Linked DNA regions of Homo sapiens. The protein of the gene in region 1 interacts with the protein of each later gene in a biochemical or structural test. Each region holds a gene or a part of one and is shown on either strand. Other genes may lie near its edges.

What was found. Proteins that work in one complex are often made in the same cells at the same time.
Region 2: the proteins of RAD51D (region 1) and ZSWIM7 form a complex in vitro, tested with the Homo sapiens proteins (one study listed by BioGRID).

Annotation. Positions count from the first base shown.
Region 1 is NC_000017.11:35,095,861-35,099,360, reverse strand, and holds part of RAD51D (DNA repair protein RAD51 homolog 4), read left to right. Parts: 3' UTR 1-3,500. UniProt on the Homo sapiens protein: Involved in the homologous recombination repair (HRR) pathway of double-stranded DNA breaks arising during DNA replication or induced by DNA-damaging agents. Bind to single-stranded DNA (ssDNA) and has DNA-dependent ATPase activity.
Region 2 is NC_000017.11:15,986,205-15,989,704, forward strand, and holds part of ZSWIM7 (zinc finger SWIM domain-containing protein 7), read right to left. Parts: intron 1,165-3,500; coding exon 1,062-1,164; intron 1-1,061. UniProt on the Homo sapiens protein: Involved in early stages of the homologous recombination repair (HRR) pathway of double-stranded DNA breaks arising during DNA replication or induced by DNA-damaging agents. Required for meiotic progression, hence for fertility.

The sequences.
Region 1 (3,500 bases):
CGGGCACAAGCACTCTTTTTTGTGGAAGTCAAAGTGTTTTTAGAAGTTTTTCTCAATATAGCACTCCAGGGGGCCACTACCAGTCAGTTGGAGTTGGTATTCAAGGTGGAGTCTGGTTGCCGTCTCTGCCCTGTTCCCATTATGTAGTGAGTTCAGGTACTTAATACCTAACTGAGGACCCTAGGACTGCAGTTTGAGATCATCTGGGGCCAGGCACAGTGGCTCACACCTATAATGGTAGCACTTTGGGAGCCTGAGGCGGGAGGATCACTTGAGCCCAGGAGTTTAACAGTTTAAAATCAGCCTGGGCAACATGATGAGACATCGTTTCTACAAAAAAATTTTTTAAATTAGCTAGGCATTGTGATGTGCACCTGTGGTCCCTGCTACTTGGGAGCCTGAGGCAGGAGAATCGCTTGAACCTTGGAGGTTGTGGCTGCAGTGAGCCCTGATCGCACCACTACACCCCAGCCTGGGTAACAGAGCAAGACCCTGTCTCAAGGAAAAAAAAAATCATCTGGCCCATCCTGTTACTTAACAGAGAAGGTACCTGAGGCTCAAAAAGGATGACTGACAGTCCTAGTGGCAGAATGGAGGTGGGATCTGGAACCCACAACTTGATTCCTAGGACTCTTTTTTTTTTAATTCCCACATTGGCTGGGTGTGGTGGCTCACGCCTGTAATCCCAGCACTTTGGGAGGCTGAGGTGGGTGGATCACCTAAGGTCAGGAGTTCCAGACCAGCCTGACCAACATGGTGAAACCCCGTCTGTACTAAAAATACAAAAATTAGCCAGGCATGGTGGCCCATTTCCTGTAATCCCAGCTACTCAGGAGGCTGAGGCAGAATCGCTTGAACCTGGGAGGCGGAGGTTGCAGGGAGCTGAGATGGCGCCACTGCACTCCAGCCTGAGCGACAGAGTGAGACTCCGTCTCAAAAAAAAAAAAAAAATGCAAAAATTAGCCAGGCGTCGTGGCGCATGTCTGTAATCCCAGCTCCTCGAGAGGCTGAGTGGGGAGGATCACTTGAGCCCAGGAGGCAGAGGTTGCAATGACCTGCGATCATGCCACTGCACTCCAGCCTGGGCAACAGAGACTCTGTTTCAAAAAGAAAAAAAAAATCCCCACATTTTATTTAATTTTCAGTCCATACAGTTCTATTCCTGCTAGGGCTGTAACTCCAGCTGAAGGCACCACAGCTGTCACCCAAGGAGTTTCTGTGGCCATGGGAAGGTGTTGCATTCACTGCTACTTGAGACCACCACGTGACATTCCTGCAGGCTGTGCCCCTCACAGCCAGCTTCATCCTTTGGCTCCTCCTAGACCAGGACTTTGTCTTGCCTGCCTGCTGCCACTGCACTCTGTTCCGGCCACACCACACTGTGCAGTCCCCTGGTAGGACTTGGGCTAGGCTGGCTCTCCTGTCCAAGTGCCTTTTGCTCCCTTTGCTTATGTGTCTGTCTCTGCCCAGCTCCCACTGTGTCTGGTGCACACCCACCCTGACATCCTTTTTTATGCCTCAGCTGTGATCTAGATAGATGCTTACAGTAACTTCCCTGTATTAGTTATTCACTTGTACTTTCTGTTCACGTGTCTGCCTACAGGCTCCCACTTTTTGTCACTTTTTCTCTTTATACATTATGGAAGCTCAGTAATGATTAAATAGATGAATGATGTTTTAAAAATATATTTTAAAAAAGCAAAGGACTGGCTCTATCTCAGGGGTTCCTTCCATAAAGCGTCAACTTTCAATTTCCCCTGCGGGGGTGGTTTGAGACCTGAGGGCACTCTCTAGTTCTTAGGAAAAAAATATACATATACATATACATATATATATATATATACACACACACACACACACATATACACACATATATATACATATATATACACACATATATATATATACACACATATATATACACACATATATATACACATATGAGCCAGGCGCAGTGGCTCACGCCTGTAATCCCAGCACTTTGGGAGGCCAAAGTGGGCGGATCACAAGGTCAGGAGTTCAAGACCAGCCTGGCCTATATAGTGAAACCCTGTCTCTACTAAAAATACAAAAATTAGCTGGGTGTGATGGCTCGCATCTGTAATCCCAGCTACTTGGGAGGCTGAGGCATGAGAATCGCTTGAACCTGGGAGATGGAGGTTGCAGTGAGCCGAGATTGTGCCACTGTACTCTAGCCTGGGCAACAGAGTGAGACTCCATCTAAAAAATATATATATATGTTCACACCCACATCATTGAGTCCCCAGAGTGTCTTCTTACATATCTTTTTACAGGGGACTATTGTATGCCCTTCGTCTGACATCAGATGAAATTAATGTTGAGATCCTACTATGTGCTAGCACTTGATGGCCTTAATTAAAAATCAGGCATTTGAATTCCCAAGGACTCAGGCAAAGGTCCATGTATCATTAAGGCTGCAAGTAACAAAACCTAGGCTTAAAGAAGTGTAAATACTAGGGACACTTATTTATATTTATTTCTTTTATGTTTCAAGACAGAGTCTTGCTCTGGAGTGCAGTGGCACAATCACGGCTCACTGTACCCTCTACCTCCCAAGCTCAAGTGATCCTCCCACTTCAGTCTCCCAAGTAGCTGGGACTACAGGTGTGTGCCACCACACCCATCTAAGTTTTGTATTTTTTGTAGAGACGGGGTCTCTGTACGTTGCCCAGGCTGGTCTTGAACTCCTGGGCTCAGGTGATCTACCCGCCTTGACCTCCCAAAGTGCTAGGGATTACAGTCATGAGCCACCATGCCTGGCAGGGACACTTATTATCTCTGATAACAGGAAGTCTGAGGTTTGTTAATTTAGTGGCTCATTGTCAAATGGCGTAGAGCCTTTGCATCCTTCTGCTCTGTTCTTTTATGTTGGTTTTGTCTTCAAGCTTGTTCCCCTTATGAAAGCCTGGCTGCAGCCATTTTGAGCATCAATCCAGACGTGACAATATCTACAGGCAGGAGAAGGATCGCCTCCTGTGTGTCCTTTAAAGAACAAGGTGTTAACATGCCAGGAACTGTGGCTCCTGACTGTAATCCCAGTAATTTGGGAAGCCAAAGTAGGAGGATCGCCTGAGGCCAGGAGTTCCAGACCAGCCTGGGCAACATAGCAAGACCCTATCTCTATAAAATAAAATAATAAAAATTAAGAAAACAAGGTGTTAAAAGACAAAATTAAAGCAAATATAGTTTTGCAGATTGTAATTGACTTTTATTTGCAATTCTAGAATTGGGCTGCCCTCAGAACCAGGACAGGTTCAGAGAATTCCAGAGCTGCAACATAGTCTGAAAGCATTTATGGTCAGAAAACAGAAATGAGATACAAAGACAACTAATTGGTTACAGCTCTGCCTTTGCCTTATTTGAAAATGGTTTGAATAGTTGGCTGCCTGGAACCCACTGAAGCTGATGATGTGATTGGCTGAGCCTCAGCAATCTGTTACAAAAGTATACTCCTAAATTAGGTTTTCAGTTAGTTTGCA
Region 2 (3,500 bases), about 19 Mb from region 1:
AGCTAATTTTTGTATTTTTAGTAGACACGGGGTTTCACCACGTTGGCCAGGCTGGTCTTGAACTCCTGACCTCAGGTGATCCACCTGCCTCGGCCTCCCAAAGTGCTGGGATTACAGGCGTGAGCCACCACGCCTGGCCATCTTATTTTAGTTACAAAAATTTCTGGAGGATTTTGTTAAGTGAAACTATGCTAAGTGAAATAAGCCAGGTACAGAATGACAAATACCACATGATCTCACTTATATGTGGAATCTAAAAAAAGTTGAACTCATAGGCTGGGTGCAATGGCTCATGCCTGTAATCCTAGCACTTTGGGAGGCTGAAGGGGGAGGACTGCTTGAGGCCAGGAGTTCAAGACCAGCTTGGGCAACATAGCAAGACCCTGTCTTTATTTAAAACAAAAAAAAAAGTTGAACTCATAGAAAAAGAAATAGTGGTTACCAGGGGCCTTGGGGTGGGGGAGGAAGAGGAAGATAAGGAGATATTGGTCAAAGGGTACAAAATTTCAGTTAGGAGAAATAAGTTCAGGGTATCTATGGTACAACATGGTGAATATATTTAATAACAAAGTATTGGCGGGGATGGTGCTCATACCTGTAATCCCAATATTGTGAGAGGCCAAGGTGGGAGGATCGCTTGAACCTAGGAGTTTGAGACCAGCCTGGGCAACATAGTGAGACCCTGTCTCTATAAAAACCAAGAAAAAGACTGAAGTACTGTATATTTGAAGATTGCTAAGATAATGGATTTTAAGTGATCTCACCACAAAAAAAGAAGTATATAAGGTATTAGATATGTTAATTAGCTTGATTTAGTTATTCTACAAGGTATCCATATATCAAAACATCATGTTATATACCATGAATATAGACAGTTTCTGTCAGTTAAAAGTAAATAAAAATTTTAAAAAATTATCAATTCGTTAATTTTACCAAGTTGGGGCAAAAGCCTTTTAACAGTCCAGGAAATATTTAAAGCTAGTCAACAGCTTCTACAGAGATGAAGAACATTTTGTCCTAAGGGGTTTCTGTAGGGATCACCCCCATCTCTAGACTTCTACCTGGTAAACACGCCTTCCACTGGGTGATGAGATTAAGGTGATGGACTGTCGATCAACTAGGTCCAAGGCCTGGGTGGCTGATGAGCCAAAGAGAAACTTCAGCCTGTGAAATAAAAACACTTCAGATTAGAAGGCCTGATTCTCAAAGTCACCTCAGTAACTTGCCCAAAGGATCACTAGACTTAGTATTTTTTAAAAATTCATTTTAATTTTGAAAAAAGGAAAATAATACAGCAAAACCCATGGACCCATTCACTCCCCAGAATTAATGTTAATATCTTGTGTACTTATTTCAGATCTTCTTGTATTATGTATATATGTGTGTGTGTATATATATTTATTTATTATTATTATTATTTTTTGAGATGGAGTTTTTCTTTTGCTGCCCAGGCTGGAGTGCAATGGCGCAATCTTGGCTCACCGTAACCTCTGCCTCCCGAGTTCAAGCGATTCTCCTGCCTCAGCCTCCCAAGTAGCTGGGATTGCAGGCATGTGCCACCACACCCGGCTAATTTTGTATTTTTAGTAGAAACAGGGTTTCTCCATGTTGGTCAGGCTGCTCTCAAACTCCAGACCTCAGGTGATCCACCTGCCTCGGCCTCCCAAAGTGCTGGGATTACAGGTGTGAGCCACTGCGCCTGGCCTGTATTATATTTTTAATAAAGGGAGTAAACTGTTAGTGATAAAGAAGCCCTCTTTATACTTCTCTGTAGTGCATCCTTCTTCCTACCTTCCCCTTATCCCTGAGGCAAGCACATGCATTTGTTGGTTTCCTTCCTGTTAATGTGTTCATATTAAATATTATATATAGAACATATGTATGCACACATACATAACAAACACACGTGCATAGATGTATGCATATACATATATAGTATTGTTTTAAAACATAAAAGGTATATTGTAGGCTTCTTTTTGCTGTTCCTGAAATAGCTCATGAAAAATAAAAGAAAATATAAAATATCGTAGACTTCTTTTGGCAACTTGCATTTTTTTACTCAATGCATTTTTGAAAATGAGGCATGTTGACGGACATTTATTTTTACTTTACCTTTGAATAATATTCCATTATATGTATACACTGAATTTTATTTAAGTACTCTATGTATGGACATTGTTTCCATTTTATACTATTATAAATAATATTCAATTATCCCCATACATGTCCCTTGGCATACATCTCTGAAAATCCCCCTTTAGTTTATGTAACTAAAGCATATGTTCATTTTCAACTTTAATAGATATTGCCAATAGCTCTCCAAAGTGGAAACAGGAGTGGTGGCTCATGCCTGTAATCCCAGCATTTTGGAAGGCTGAGGCAAGAGGATCACTTGAGTCCAGGAGTTCAAGACCAGCCTGAGCAATGTAGTGACACCCCATCTCTAAAGAAAAAAGAAAAAAAAAAACTAAAACACACAAAAAAGTGAAAACAGCACTCCCACCAGCACTGTATAAGACTTCTATTTTCTCAGGCCGGGCGCGGTGGCTCATACCTGTAATCCTAGCACTTTGGGAGGCCGAGGCAGGCAGATCACCAGAGGTCAGGAGATCGAGACCATCCTGGCTAACATGGTGAAACCCCGTCTCTACTAAAAATACAAAAAATTAGCCGGGCGTGGTGGCACACGCCTGTAGTCCCAGCTACTCAGGAGGCTGAGGCAGGAGAATCGCTTGAATCCGGGAGGTGGAGGTTGCGGTGAGCCAAGATCGCGCCACTACACTCTGGCCCAGGTAACAGGGAGACTCCGTCTCAAAAAAAAAATAAATGAAACAAACAAACAGAAAAACCAACTTCTACTTTCTCCATGTCCCCACTAACACCAGTATTATCAGGCTTTTTTATGTTGCCCATCTGAAGATAATAAATGTGTACTTTTTGGATTAGTAATAAGGCTATCCAACTGTTAAATGATATACAGGAAAAAACTTTGATATGTGAGAAAATTCTTATAATATTAGGTGAGAAAGGTTGAAGACAAAATTATATTTTAGGAACTCTCAAGCATGTTAACTTTTTTAAAGGAAACCTACAATTATGTCAAAATTAAAAGTTTAATTTTTTTTTTTTTTGAGATGGAGTCTCACTCTGGTGTCCAGGCTGGAGAGCAGTGGCACAATCTCGGCTCACTGCAACTTCTGCCTCCGGGGTTCAAGAGATTCTCCGGCCCAGCCTCCTGAGTAGCTGGGATTATAGGTGCAGGCCACCATGCCCAGGTAATTTTTGTATTTTTTAGTAGAGATGGGCTTTTGCCATGTTGGTCAGGGTGGTCTTGAACTCCTGACCTGAGGTGATCCCCCCGCCTTGGCCTCTCAAAGTGCTGGGGTTACAGGTGTGAGCCAGCGTGTCTGGCCTTTTTGTTTGTTTGTTTTTTGTTTTTTGAGACAAAGTCTCTCTCTGTCACCCAGGCAGGCTGGATTCCAGTGGTGCAATCATGGCTC